2 linked regions of the Homo sapiens genome follow. The main gene of each other region encodes a partner of the protein of the gene in region 2 in a complex. Each region holds a gene or a part of one and is shown on either strand. Other genes may lie near its edges.

Region 1 (7,877 bases), on a different chromosome or scaffold from region 2:
ACCATTTATTCCAATATGTCTTACATATATTATCCTTTTCTGTTGCACTATGAAAAAGGTTTATCATTTAAAGAATATAAGAAGGCAAATATAGGTACTGGAATGTCTAAGCATTCACCAAAATGCATACTTTTTTTTTTTTTTTTTGAGACGGAGTTTCACTCGTTGCCCAGGGTGAAGTGCAGTGGCGTGATCCTGGCTCACTGCAATCTCTGCCTCCCAGGTTCAAGCCATTCTCCCACCTCAGCCTACTGAATAGCTGGGATTACAGGCATGCGCCACCACACCTGGCTAATTTTGTATTTTTAGTAGAGACAGGGTTTCATCATATTGGCCAGGCTTGCCTCGAACTCCTGACCTCAGGTGATCCACCCATCTCGGCCTCCGAAAGTGCTGGGATTACAGGCGTGAGTCACCGCGCCTGGCATAAAATGCATACTTTTAAACTACATGTACAGTGGGCAAATTCCTACAACGCCTTTACACATTTGTAGTTAGGACCAAGTTCTATAAACCAACCTTATGTCTGCTCAAAAGTTTGAAATTTCCCAATAATTGTAGTTTTACTTTGCCAACAACATTTAAGCAACCTGAAAATACCTACAAATTGAACAGGCATTCAAGAGGAGCCGCTTGGGCTGCATCACCACTATCAAGACACTATGGAAATTACCTAATGATTGACTTTCAGAGAAAATCTTCAGTCTCACAAGAAAATCTGTCTTTCGTCACCGTTTTTATAAAGTGATCAAGACAAGGTCTCACTACGTTGTGACAGTTATCACAGACTTTATATATGTTACTTTATATTTTTCTGAGACAGGGTTTTGCTGGTCTCAAACACCTGGGCTCAAGCCATCCTCCTTCCTCAACCTCCCAAAGCGCTGGGATTACACGGTGAGCCACCATGCCTGGCAATTGCATCATCTTTTTTGATCATTTCGTTCAGCATCTCGTTCATCGACTGAGAAGTGACCTGAAATAACTTCCAACCATTAACATACCCTCCCTCCTCCCAAAAGAACAAACCTCTAGCGATTAGGTCGCACACTCATGCGCTCTCACACGCACACAAACCCGGTCCTTTCCCTCCTCATTACAGTACCATGGGCAAGTCACCTCCACCTAGAAAGGTCTGTCTTCTCATTAGCAGCTGTTCATGTATTTTGTTTAAAGCAAAACACCTGGAGTAGATCACAGATCTAAAGATATTAAGCAATTTTTATTCTAAATTTTACTCTAAAAGTCATCACATTCTAAACACTGTGATGGCCAGGCATGTTGGCTCATGCCTGTAATTGCAGCACTTTGGGAGGCCAAGGAAGGAAGATCGCTTGAGCCCTGGAGTCGGAGACCAGCCTGGGCAACAGAGCAAGGCTCTACAAAAAATTAAAAAATTAGCCGTGGTGGTGTCTGCCGGTAGTCCCAGCTAGTCAGGAGGGTGAGGCAAAAGGATCGCTTGAACCCAGGAGGCGAAGGCTGCAGTGAGCCGAGAACTGTGCCACTGCACTCCAGCCTGGGTGACAGAGTGAGATCCTGTCTCAAAAACAATAAATAAATTAAATAAAGACTGTGATAAATGTCTTAACAGCAATTCCCCAAAAAAGCCTTTAAACCCTTTTGATCAATGGCCCACGTCCACTCCTACAGCCTACTAATCTGTTCTAGAGTAGTAAATTCTAGTATATTGTAAAAAATACAAAGTGCTACTACACACCATTTTATTTTTCAGTTATTCATATTCACTCTCTTCCTCTTCAAAGTTAAATTCCCAGATACAAGTAGGCAAGAAGATTCAGCACTAACAATGAGACAATCCACCTGGAAAACAGGTAAGTATGGGAACTCAAATTGAAGCAGATTATCTAAAACACATCAGCTTACACAGTAACAACAAATCCAAAGAGCTCGAGCGAGATGACCATTCACAACGCTGTCAATGGCAACAACAGTTAAAAACAGAAGGCCACAGGTGTTGGTTAGCAGGCTCTTCGGGGAAGGTGAAGGAGGTAAAGAATCAAAGGAAGTTTCCAAAGAAAATAGCGATTAGTGCTGAAAAACAAAAAGGAGGGATGCAATTTGGGTTACCAGAGAAAACTGCTTGTAGAAACCAGTACAATCTCCGAATCCTTCGCAATACTATAAAATAAGCATCCTCATTGCATGCCAAGTGCTTCTTTAACCTGTAATCCACCCCGTCCTCTCCCTCAAAATCTGCGTTAAACTGAATTTTAAAAACATTTTAGGGGAGGGGGTAAGCAGTTGGTTTCCCGCTTGACAGTAATTGTGGCCACGGAGCGCGAAGCTCCACACTCCACACAGCGCGCCACCCACAGAGGCGCTTCTCAAAAGTTGCCACCCATCTTGGCCACGAGTCCCGGGACACGGACTCGCCTCCTCCGACGACGGCAGCCGGGACCGGCCGGGATCCGGGAGCCCAGCGCCGACCCTCTCCCCTCTGCGCGCCGCCGCCGCCGCCGTCAATCAACGCCCCCCTCCCAGGGACTCGGCCCGGGGGCGCGGCCCGGGGCGGGGCGCGATCGCGGCGCGTCGAAGGGGCCCCCAACAGCCGCCAGCTTGCGGAGCAGCGGGACCGCCGCCCACGAAACGAAAGTTGCCCGCGACCGAGCCCGGCCGACGGGGGGCGGTCCGTGCGCGGCCGGAGAGAGGAGCGGCGCCCCGACCGGGCCTCCGGCCTGCCTCGCTCACCTCTCGGGGTGCGCCGCCTTCCTCCGCCGCTGCCGCCTCCTCCTCCCTGTGAGTGCAGCGGGGTCTGCCCTGTGGAACCACCATACCAGTCCCGCCCGCTGCTGCAGCGCCGCCACCGCCGCCGCTCCTCTGCCGCCTTAGTCGCTGCTCTTTGTTCCCCCTCCGAGAGCCACTGCTTCGGCTGCCCGCCTCAGCCGCCCCGACGGGCCGCCACTACGCCCTCCCGCCCTCTCGGCCCCCGGCCTCGCCCTCCTCGCTGCGCCCGCCGCTGCCTTCGCCTCCGCGCCGCCGTCGCCGCCGCCACCGACGCCGCCGCCTCCTCCTCCGCGCCCCCCTCGTTTTCATTGAAAGCAAACAAGCATCATGGCGGCGGCCGCCGTCCCTCAGCCAGCGAGCGCCCGGACCGCCGCCGGCGCTCCAACATCCTGGCCGCTCATTGGGCGCCGTCGCCGGGCACAACCATCCGCCCTTCGGTGCGGGGGTCGCTCCCGGCACGCAGCTGCCCAGGCCCCGCCCCCTTACCCCCGCGCTGGAGAGCGGTGGACCGGCCCGGCGCGCTGCGGGCCCTGCCTCCCTGCCTGCCGCCCTCCATCCCTTCCTCTCCGTCCATCCTTCGTCTCCTTCTGTTCCCGCTCTCCTCGCTCCTTTCCTGCCTTGGCACTTCTGTTTTCTCCTCTCCTTAGCGCTCCTCCATTTTTCATCTACTTCTTTTTCCGCCCCAGGTTGTCCACTTTTTTTTTGTTTTTTGAGACGGTGTCTTGCTCTTTCACCCAGGCCAGAGTGCAGTGGGGCGATCTTGGCTCACTGCAAGCTCCGCCTCCCGGGTTCACACCATTCTCCTGCCTCAGCCTCCCGAGTAGCTGGGACTACAGGCGCCCGCCACCGCGCCCGGCTCATTTTTTGTATTTTTAGTAGAGACGGGGTTTCACCGTGTTAGCCAGGATGGTCTCCATCTCCTGACCTCGTGATCCGCCCACCTCCGCCTCCCAAAGTGCTGGGATGGCAGGCGTGAGCCACCGCGCCCGGCTGGGTTGTCCACTTTTATCTCCTCTTTTCCTTGATCGTCCTCCCCTTTTTTTCTCCTCTTCCTTTTCCTTAAGCCTTCGCCTGTCAATCACGTCGAAACACAGTATTTGACCGGAGCCAGTATCTTGATCTGCCTAAAGACAAGACATTCAATCGTGAACAGTCGAATATTATTCCTTCCTCAATTATACAAAGAAGAGTAAGTTAACATACCACTTCAGCCTATTAATGGTAATTCATTCCATTACATTAATGGACAGTTTTGGTGCTGGGGTCCTAGCCTGGGTAACGGACAGCAGCTGCTGTGCTCCAAGATCAAAAGGTGTTCAGGGCAAACTCTGGTGTTTGAAGGTCAGCAGAGAAATGACTGGGCTGATTCATGATGCTTACATCAAGAAATATTAGTTGACTGATGGTCAGGGCACAGAGATGAATCAGACCCCACCCAGCCCTGAGTAAGCTCACAGTCTAGGGGCAAGAATAACACCCAACAGACTTAATATTGGAGGTATATTGGTCGGGCGCGGTGGCTCACGCCTGTAATCCCAGCACTTTGGGAGGCCGAGGGGGGCAGATCACCTGAGGTCCGGAGTTGGAAAACAGCCTGACCAACATGGCGAAACTTCGTCCCTACTAAAAGTACAAAAAATTAGCCAGGTCTGGTGGCTTGCACCTGTAATCCCAGCTACTCGGGAGGCTGAGGCAGGCAGGAGAATCATTTGAACCTGGGAGGCGGAGGTTGTAGTAAGCGGAGATCGCACCATTGCACTCAGGCCTGGGCAGCAAGAGCGAAACCCTGTCTCAAAAAAAAAAAAAAAATTTGAGCTATATGTTGAAGGCGTGAAGGAAAAGGAAAGCTGCCTGCCCACCTATGTGGCAAACTAGGATAGGCTGCTAACTGCTTCCTGGAAAATCAACCCTGAAGAAATGAGAGTGAGACAGGTTCCAGGAACTAACAGTAGCAACAAACCGAGGCTTCTGCTTCAGTGAAGGCTGTTGAGAGCTGGGGATGTGGGAAATGGGTTGCTGTTGCCTGGGGTGGAGGAGACCTGGCTGGAAGGGCAAGGAAAGGATGAGGGACAAAAGCTGTTCAGAGGTGAAGATGATCCCCCTCTCCCCAGCACGGCCTTGGGATGGTCATCGCTTGGCACTGCCATGACATCAGGAGTGACAGCCCAGGCCTCTAGCGCCATAGGACACTGGGCAAAGACAGAGCAGTGCAGAAGTTTAGGAGTCAGGAAGAACACATGTAGACCAGTAAGCTGCCTGTGGCCATCCCTCCACAACCTCCTCCTGTACAGCAGGGAGTTGTGCGGCCCTGTGCTGTACAGAGTATCCCAGGCTGAGGGGCCAATGGGACAGACACCCTGCAGGGCCTCTCCTCCCTGTGTGAGTGCCCTGGCCGTCTGTGCTCCAGCCTGGGTGCCTTTTTGTAATTTGGCCAGAGGCAGCTACCTCAGCCCGGTGCGGGGACTCAACGCCTGTAATCCCAGCACTTTGGGAGGCCGAGGCGGGCAGATGACTTGAGGCCAGGAGTTCGAGACCAGCCTGGCCAACATGGCAAAACCCCGTCTCTACTAAAAATACAAAAAAAAAAAAAAAAATTAGCTGGGTGCAGTGGCGGGCACCTGTAATCCCAGCTACTTAGGAGGCTGAGGCATGAGAATCGCTTGAATCCAGGAGGCAGAGGTTGCAGTGAGCTAAGGTTGCGCCATGGCACTCCAGCCTGGGCAACAGAGCAAGACTGTCTCAAAAAAAAAAAAAAAAAAACTCAAACAAAACAAAACAAAAAACAGAGGGAGCAATTCCCTTGTGACTGGCACGACTGTATGGAGGAGGGGAGGTCTTGTTGCACAAAATCTTGGTAGCATAAAGCAACAGTTTTACTGTATCTCATGATTCTGATGTTCACCCTTGGGGCCTCATGCCTATACCAAAGGTGGCAGCTGGGTGTTGAATGTCTGGCACCTCGCTGCCCCCTAACGAGGCCTCCCCCGCAGTGTCTCATCCTTCAGCCTTTGTGTGTGGCCCCTTTCCCCAGCAGGAGGTGATCCTGCACTTCCTACATGACAACCAGGGGCTCCAAGAGGAAAGCGAAGCTGCCAGGCCTTCTGAAGAAGGCCACTTCCTCAATATTCTATGAATTAAAGCAGGCACAAGCCCAAGCCAGATTCAAGAGGAGAGGACATAAGCTGTGGAGGAGCTGCGCGTGCATGCAGGGCGGGGTGGACTAATTGGAGCCCTCTGGGGAGACTTGCTGCCACCAGGAGGGTACGATAGTGGCTCTGCTGTGCATGCCCTTTTCTTTCTGCATATCCGAGGAGAACCCCGCAAAATACCTACTCACCCTTTCAGGCCAGATCAAAGTGCCCCTCATGTTAGGCCAGACCTCCCATTGCAAGTTATAAAACTCACAACTCAATATTTCTTTGCAAGAAGGAGGGAATTGAATTGAAAGAGGGAATGCTGAACCATTCAGGCATTGTAAGGTGGCATCAAGAATCGATCTCACCTCCCACCCTCCATCCTGTTCTCTCTGCAGGCCTCACAAGCGGGAAAGATGCCACCAACACCTGCAGGCTTAGATTCTACCAGCTTCTCCGCTTAGAGAAGGTGCTTCTTTCCTAATGATTCCAGCCAAAGACCCAGGGCAGGCTCTCACTGGCCTGGCCTGGGCCTTGTTTCTACTGCAGTCAGGCAGTACCAAAGCAGGACCAGTCTGGGATTGATACGTGCTAAGCGAGGACAGCATGAATTGGTGGCAGCCAGTGCCATCTTCCCCACCACATGGAGAGATGAGACACTGGTGAAGATGTGGAGTCTCAGAGCAAGGGCCTGACAACTTGTTTCAGTAGTTTTTTCCTTTAGCTCGTGACCTATACCAGAACCTATTCCAGGTATACAAACCAATACTTTTTTTTTTTCGCTTAAGTTTGAGTTTGGCTTCTGTAGCTTACAACCAAAATAATTCTAATTTGACCAGTAAATGCGTTGCACAGAGGGATGCGTCACCAGAATAGGGTCATCATCCGATGTGCACAGCAAGTCAATGCGCCAAGACACCAGGCTGCAGCAGAGGAGGTTTGAATCCTAGGGCCACTGGATGTGGAGACAAGAAGAAACCAAATCTGCCTCCCTGATGAGTTTGGGGCTAGGATTTTCAAGGGTTTTGGAGTGGGCTGAAGAATGGAGATTGCTGGTTTGTCAAGGAGAGCAGGATGAAGCCGTGCTGATTCTCATGCTGATTGGTTCCTTTGGGCAAGGGTTGGGGGTCTTCAAACTGGTTGGCATCACCTGTTCGACTGGAGTTCAGGATCTGCTTGAGCACTTCTTTCATATTTATTTACTTATTTTTGTTTTTTTATTTTTTTCCCTGAGACAGAGTCTTGCTCTGTTGCCCAGGCTGGAGCACAGTGGCACAATCTCGGCTTGTTGCAAGCTCCACCTCCCAGATTCAAGCAATTCTCCTGCCTCAGTTTCCCGAGTAGCTGGGATTACAGAGGCACACCACCACACCCAGCTAATTTTTGTATTTTTAGTAGAGACGGGGTTTCACCACGTTGGCCAGGCTGGTCTTGAACTCCTGACCTCGTGATTTACCCGCCTCGGCCTCCCAAAATGCTGGGATTACAGGTGTGAGCCACTGTACCCGGCCTATATTTATTTATGTTACTGTATTTTTGAGACAGGTTCTCACTCTGTCACCCAGGCTGGAGTGCAGTGGCATGATCACGGCTCACTGCAGTCTCAACCTCCTTGGGCTCAGGTGATCCTCCCACCTCAGCCTCCGGAGAGGCTGGGACTGCAGGCATACACCACACCCCGTTAATTGTTGTTGTTGACATGGGGTTTCACCTTGTTGCCCAGGCTGGTCTCCAGCTCCTGCCCTCAAGCAATCTGCCCGCCTCGGCCTCCCAAAGTGCTAGTATTACAGGCGTGAGCCACTGTGCCAGGCTGCTTAAGTGATTTTTAAACAAAAGCCTTAGGACCCTAACATCAGAAATCCCATCTGTAGTAACAGCGGGGGTGCATAATGGTCAGTGTCCGGAGCTACATGACTTTCTGTTACAAGGAAGTGGGCCTAAGTGCCGCCTGATTAATGCTTAATTATAACTATATTTCTGTCCGGGATTCCTGTTAAC
Region 2 (7,094 bases):
ACAATATTCCCCCCAAATTTGAATATTTTATAATTCTCTATAGTCATCAAATATGTTTGTGACCTTGGTTAAGTTCCTTAATTATTCTTATCTGGAAAACAAGATGGGAGACTAGAAAAATGATAATTGCTACCCCTAAGCTCTAAACTGCTAACAAATTCCTGGTGATTTCCATCTCTATGCCCAATATGTTCTCAGGTAATTGCCCCCAACCATGAGAAATAAAAGAAGGAGCGGGAGGCGGGGGGGAAGGCTATCTACACTTGCAGATGAGATCACTAATGTTCAGAGGAATTAACTCACTCAATTTAACCAGGTATGAAGGTATGAAGTTGCATATTCCCGTACTTTTTTGAACTATATTACAGTTTCTCACAGTACTTATAAGTTCCCAAAAGATCTTAGCTTGACAGAATGATGACCTACCCATTGTACAGATGTAAAGACAAAGAACACAAAGAACTGCCTTTGTTGAAGATCAGAAGCATAAAATAGACTTTGAAGTGGATTCAAATTTACTCTACCCAATCTGAATAATGGCCTTTTAAAAATGGAAGCTTCATTGTAAGTTTTTAGCTTTATTTTTACTATTTCACTAGCCTGACAGAAAGAACCACAAGTTGTTCTGCTAAATAGACTGAAATACAATGCAGCTTAAGCTTTAAGTGCCTTACAGTAATCTGCTAAAAGCTGTTTTGTAACTCCCTTCAGGGATGGTCCTCAAGGAATCAATCATAGGCTCTTAAAGCAACAATATGATAGAAGGAATATGGTAGCTTTTTTCCTCCTTTCCCAACAGCAAAAGCAGTGTTGTTCAGGCACTTGCCCTTTCTAGGCAGCCACAAACAGGCCCTCAACTTAAAAACTATTTTTGGAAATGTAATTCCTACCTGAAGATAGGGTATGTGTTTATTTAGAATATTACATCACCTTAGACGCTCAGCAGAAACACAGGATAAAATTTTAGTGTTAGGTTTCCTGCCCAGTCTCTTGGATGACCCCACAATCCAGTAACCAAAGGGGGCCTCACAGATACTGGTCTGGCAATATAGTACCTTTCCTGATTAATCAGTACCCATTCCAGCTGACCTTCCCCAAAGTCTTGTCATACAGATACCACCATCAGTAAACTCCATCATCCCTACTGGAGCCAGTGTGTGACTTGCAGTTGGCACCTTGTACCCCATCTTGCCCTGGTAACCACTGGTTTGCATACCATGCCTCCTGAACACCAGGCCCCATCCCTACATATTCTCTTTCTGGAGCTGGCCTGATGCCCACAGAGAAGATGGCCCTGCTGGCAGTGGTGTAGGCACTCTGAAAGGCCAATGCCTGGTGCGTACACGGGTTCCTAAAGCCATGGACACCTGCTGCTAGCAATACTCCAATTTGTGAGATTATTTGTGGGGGCTGCAGCCTCCATGTGATTTTGATTCTAAGAGAGCTAGAACCATGTCAGGTGGGTGGTAATGTGGCCCCCATGGGCACTAGCTTGGTGTTATGGGTTCTGCTGTCATTCTAGCCAAAAGGAGGGCAGTTTGGTGCCAGGAAATATCTAGGGTGGGGATCCTCCTTTTCATCATCCCTGTTGCATTTCACCCCCAATTTAATAACAGCAGTAAGTTACACCAACTGAATACCCACCTGTCATGGGATGAATACAATTTTTTAAAAATAAAAATGAGAGCTTAAAACATACAGTGCTTACTCTGCCAGGCACTGTCCTAAATACTTATATTTACCAGCACTCTCATTTTATAGATAAGGAAAATCTGAGGCACAGAGAAGTTATGTAAAATTTAAATGGCAAGCTAGGATTTGTACCCAGGTGTTCTAGCAACAGAGCCCACACTTTTAACCGCTTTGCTAATGCTGCTTCTCATCTGCCTGAAAGACAAAATCTGATCTAAAGATGACTTTTTTTTTTTTTTTGAGATGGAGCCTCACTCTGTCTCCCAGGCTGGAGTGCAGTGGTGTGATCTCAGCTTACTGCAACCTCCGCCTCCCAGGTTCAAGCGGTTCTTCTGCCTCAGCCTCCCCGGTAGCTGGGACTACAGGCATATGCCACATGCCCAGCTAATTTTTGTATTTTTAGCAGAGATGGGACCTTCCCACGTTGGCCAGGCTGATCTCAAACTCCTGACCTGAAGTGATCTGCCTGCCTTAGCTTCCCAAAGTGCTGGAATTGCAGGTATAAGCGACTGTGCTCAGCCTAAAAATGACTTCCTAATAAATTATATTCTTTGACCTAGACAATATAGTTAATACATAAAAATCTCAGACAAAAAGTAAAATGTTATTGGTGGTAGTTCAACAAAATCTGAAAGAACACTCAGTACTATGAACAGTAGCATTGATGTTAGGAGAAATTCTCTACTTATTGAGATTACAAAGCACTTAATAGGTATTGTTTTCAGAGAGAAGTCAGTACAATAGTTTCACATAGTTCCCTGTGTCACATTATGGATCAGATGGGGCATAATTTACTTAGTGAGAACCACCAACACACACATGGACATATAACAAGCAATTTTGTAACACACATATAGGAATTTCATTGTTTTGGAGAATAAAAAGGAAATATTCTTATATTTTGAGTTATATATTAATTTATATAACCAGATGATTGATAAAATATTTTGGACATTCCTAAATAAAACACCAAAACTCAAAATGTATCTTACTCTCCTTCCATATCCCAAGAGTTATTTAGGCCCATCTTTCACAAAAAGAATCTGTAATTGACATCTTTTTAAAAGGAGGCGGGCAGTAGAAGAAGGGGTACGGCAGGTGAGGGAAGAGTTAGTTCTGTTGTACCACCTTTTTTTAAAAACATGGTTTCATTTAATGATCACAACATGGTGGTTATTAACCTCATTTAACAATCGATGAAACCATGGGCAGACAACAGGCAGATTTACTCCTCATGCCACTCTGTAACGATCACCTCTAATGATTCCTAGTTCAGATGCTACAACTCTTTGAATTTTTAATTTACTAATACATTTCTAAGGCTGTGGCTGATATGGAACTCAATCTAGTAGCACACATTGCTCACTGACAGGCAAGCAAATTAATCTATGACTTCTCTACTGGAAATTACCTTATTTGAAGCATTAATAATAATTGCAGGATACCAACCAAGAGAGCAGAGGTTGACATTTTTTGAGGCCCAGACCCTTTAAGAATCAAATGAAGTCCGGCACGGTGGCTCACGCCTGTAATCCCAGCACTTTGGGAGGCCGAGGTGGGAGGATCACAAGGTCAGGAGTGTGAGACCATCCTGGCTAACATGGTGAAATCCCATCTCTACTAAAACTACAAAAAAATTAGCCAGGTGTGGTGGCAGGCACCTGTAGTCCCAGCTACTTGGGAGGCTGAGGCAGAATGGCGTGAACCCGGGAAGCGGAGCTTGCAGTGAGCGGAGATTGCACCACTGTACTCCAGCCTGAGCCACTGTACTCCAGCCTGAGCTACAGAGCAAGACTCATCTCAAAAAAAAAAAAAAAAAGAAAAAAGAAAAGAAAAAAGAAAATTGTGGATCTTTTACTCAGAAAAATACACAACTGCAAAAACACGAAAACCTACACATAATTTTAAGGAGTTCACAGAGTTCCTGCAATGTATCCATGTACCCAGGATTAAGAATCTGTTTATCAAATTGAAGAACAGGAAAGACCTCAATTTGCAAGGAACTACATGTGTATATAATTGGAACACACACTGGCGTGGGAGCCTGAAGTGACTTCAAAATCCAGTTTTGCTCTTTCTAGAATTGTGTGACCTAGGATAAGTCATTTAACTTTCCAAACCTCAATTTTCTCATTGTTAAAGTGAAGGAACTATATTAAATAATTGTCAGTCTCAGGCAACTCTAAAATCTTAGAAATTATTTAGTTCTTAGTTGTGAGAGTCTAATCTAAGAGGCTCTTTTTTTAAAAAAAAAACTTTGACGTATAATTTGCATACAATAAAAGTGAACTCATTTTAAGTGTACGCTTCAATAGATTTTTGAGAAATTTATACACCTAAGTAACTGCTACCATAATGAAGATATAGATCCATTCACCCCAAAAAGTTCTTTAATGCCCTTTTCAGTAAACCCCATACTCAGCCTGAGGCAATCATGGGTGTTTTCTGCTACTATAGATTAGGTCTGCCTTTTCCAGAAATTATTAATATGCAGTAATATTTATTGAGCATACCATGTTTCAGGCACTGTGGATTACATCATTTTATTCTCAAAATTCTAAGAGGAAACAGGTTAATAGAGGTTTAATGTGCTCAAGGTCACACAGCCAGTGTACAGCAGAATGAGACTGAAACTCTACTTCTCTCTAGAATCGATGAGTTCTATCTGGTCTCAAGGATAGAAAGCACAAATACTCCTCCAAGTTGAAGAAATTACTCTTAAGAACCCAAAAAAACTTTCTTAAATTTAATATTCCCTTAGCACAGAACTCATTAACAGCTGGATTTGGATACACAGTGAGCTCAATTACATACCTGGACACATAGAATCATCATGAGAAATCTGATTTAGATTATGAGTTATCCTTAACACTTCCAAGAATAGAAAAAAGCTCTATAGTACATTACCGTAGATTATTAATTGTAACCTGCTAAAGTCAACAGTCCTGGCCAGGCACAGAGACAGGTTCACACCTGTAATCCCAGCACTTTGGGAGGCTGAGGCTGGTGGATCACTTGAGGTCAGGAGTTTCAACACAGTGAAACCCTGCCCCTACTAAAAATACAAAAATTAGCCTGGTGTGGTGTCGTTTGCCTGTAATCCCAGCTACTCAAGAGGCTGAGGTGGGAGAATCGACTGAACCCAGAAGGTCGAGGTTGCGGTGAGCCAAGATCACACCACTGCACTCCAGCCTGGGTAACAAAGCGAGATCCTGTCTCAAAAACATAAAATAAAATAAAAAAATAAAGTCAACAGTCCTGTTCTTTTAATAAGTGTGTTAAAAAACTTTCATATTATCAAAATTTAGGTGGTAACTCTCCCTCCTTTTCTGTTTAATGATTTGTATATGGAAAATGTATTTCAAATGACACCTTTTTTCCCCAAGAAAGCTTAACATACAGATAAGGTATTTACCAAAGTAAGTTACCAATGGTTAACTCCAAGTGTCACACAGGGTACTGACAGTTTAAGTTGGTCTTCTATTTCTGAAAGATTTTAACACATAATGTGAAAAGTATAAAGATGTTTATAAATTATTTTAAATAAAACATGACATTTATCTATAAATGGTAAAGAAAATGATTTCCTTCTCTGAGTAAACTAAAAAATTGATGCTGATGGTTTCTTAAACAGAAAATAGCCAAATTATCAATGTAACTTTATGTTTAAGGGCCAAAATAGCTGTTTATTTTCCTGCCAATACATAAAGAATGGAATCAGACTGAAATAGAGATTATTTTCCCAAGTCTGGAGATCAACACGTGGATTTGGGTGTCAGCATGGTATTCCAAGAAAATGAACTTTCTAATAGTGCTGGAAGTACTAAATTAGCTTACCTTCATAATTTTATAAGAGCCAGAATGTATCTTTTTTTTTTTTTTTTTTTTAAGATGGAGTTTCGCTCTTGTTGCCCAGGCTCGAGTGCAATGGCACAATCTCAGCTCACTATAACCTGCGCCTCCCAGGTTCAAGCGATTGTCCTGCCTCAGCCTCCCAAGTAGCTGGGATTACAAGCGCATGCCATGACGCCAGGCTAATTTTTCTATTTTTAGCAAAGACGGGGTTTCACTACGTTGGCCAGGCTGGTCTCGAACTCCTGACCTTATGATCCACCTGCCTCAGCCTCCCAAAGTGCTGGGATTACAGGCATGAGCCACCATGCCCGGCCCAGAATGTATTTTTTCAAAATAACTTTTAAAAAATGAAAGTGAATAAGGAAAGATAAGTTAGGCAATTTGCCTAAAGCTTCATCAGGAGACTCGGGAGGAGAAAGTGAATTAAATCCTTTAGAGTGCAGTGTTCTTTCTACTTGCCAAAAAGGAAGGCATCTGGCAGTCCATGACAGCTTCAATAAAAAGATGTAAAATAACTAATGATGCTGCTGGTTAGGCGGAAAGTGAGAGAAAGACAAGTGTTTAGGGATGCTAGAATTGTCAGTGGAAATCAGTGGGAAATTAAAAACAAAACAAAACAAAAACACATCCCCTAAAGGCTTACCTCCGGTTGTTTCACAAGCATAACATCCATTACAGAATACCTATGGCATGCAAAGATTTGTAGTTTTCTTTTTCCTTTGAGACAGGGTCTCACTATGTCGCCTAAGCTGAAGTGCGGTAGCATGATCATGGCTCACTGCAGCCTGGAAAATTTTTAAACATTTTTTGTAGAGATAGGTTCCTACTGTGTTGCCAAGGCTGGTCTTGAACTCCCGGCCTCAAGTGATCCTCCTGCCTTGGCCTCCCAAAGTGCTGGGATTATAGGTGTGTGAGCCTTTAATTTGGGAATTAAATTCCCAAAGCTGAAGTCTGGGAACAAGTCACATATCAGTGAGTGAATCTAGCCAACCACTGAGCATTTTGTTATTCTTTCTTTCATTTTTTTTTAAAGATGGAGTCTTGCTCTTGTCTCCCAGGCTGAAGTGCAATGGCACGATTTTGGCTCACTGCAACCTCCACATCCTGGGTTCAAGTGATTCTCCCGCCTCAGCCTCCTGAGTAGCTGGGATTACAGGCGCCTGCCACCATGCCCAGCTAATTTTTGTATTTTTAGTAGAGATGAGGTTTCACCACGTTGGCCAGGCTGGTCTGGAACTCTTGACCTCAGGTGATCTATCCGCCTTGGCCTCCCAAAGTGCTGGGATTACAGGCATGAGCCACAGTACCCGGCCGCATTTTGTTATTCTTACTTAATCTTTAGAATAATCCTGTGTGGTACTTCTGTCCTTATTTATTAGAGGAGAGAAAAAAGAAATTATGCTCAATGGTAGCGGTAATGAATATATGAAGATGTTAGGATGTATTCCATCAAGAATGACAACAGCAAGGTCGGGCGCAGTGGCTCATGCCTGTAATCCCAGCACTTTGGGGGCTGAGGCGGGCAGATCACCTGAGGTCAGGAGTTC

The links. The genes of interacting proteins can lie anywhere in the genome.
Region 1: CNOT9 (region 2) and CNOT6 share a complex: the UniProt entries of both Homo sapiens proteins name them as parts of the CCR4-NOT complex.

Annotation. Positions count from the first base shown.
Region 1 is NC_000005.10:180,489,596-180,497,472, reverse strand, and holds the start of CNOT6 (CCR4-NOT transcription complex subunit 6), read right to left. Parts: upstream 3,095-7,877; 5' UTR 2,710-3,094; intron 2,053-2,709; exon of another isoform or gene 1,885-2,052; intron 1,822-1,884; exon of another isoform or gene 1,718-1,821; intron 1-1,717. UniProt on the Homo sapiens protein: Poly(A) nuclease with 3'-5' RNase activity.
Region 2 is NC_000002.12:218,571,805-218,578,898, reverse strand, and holds part of CNOT9 (CCR4-NOT transcription complex subunit 9), read right to left. Parts: intron 1-7,094. UniProt on the Homo sapiens protein: Component of the CCR4-NOT complex which is one of the major cellular mRNA deadenylases and is linked to various cellular processes including bulk mRNA degradation, miRNA-mediated repression, translational repression during translational initiation and general transcription regulation.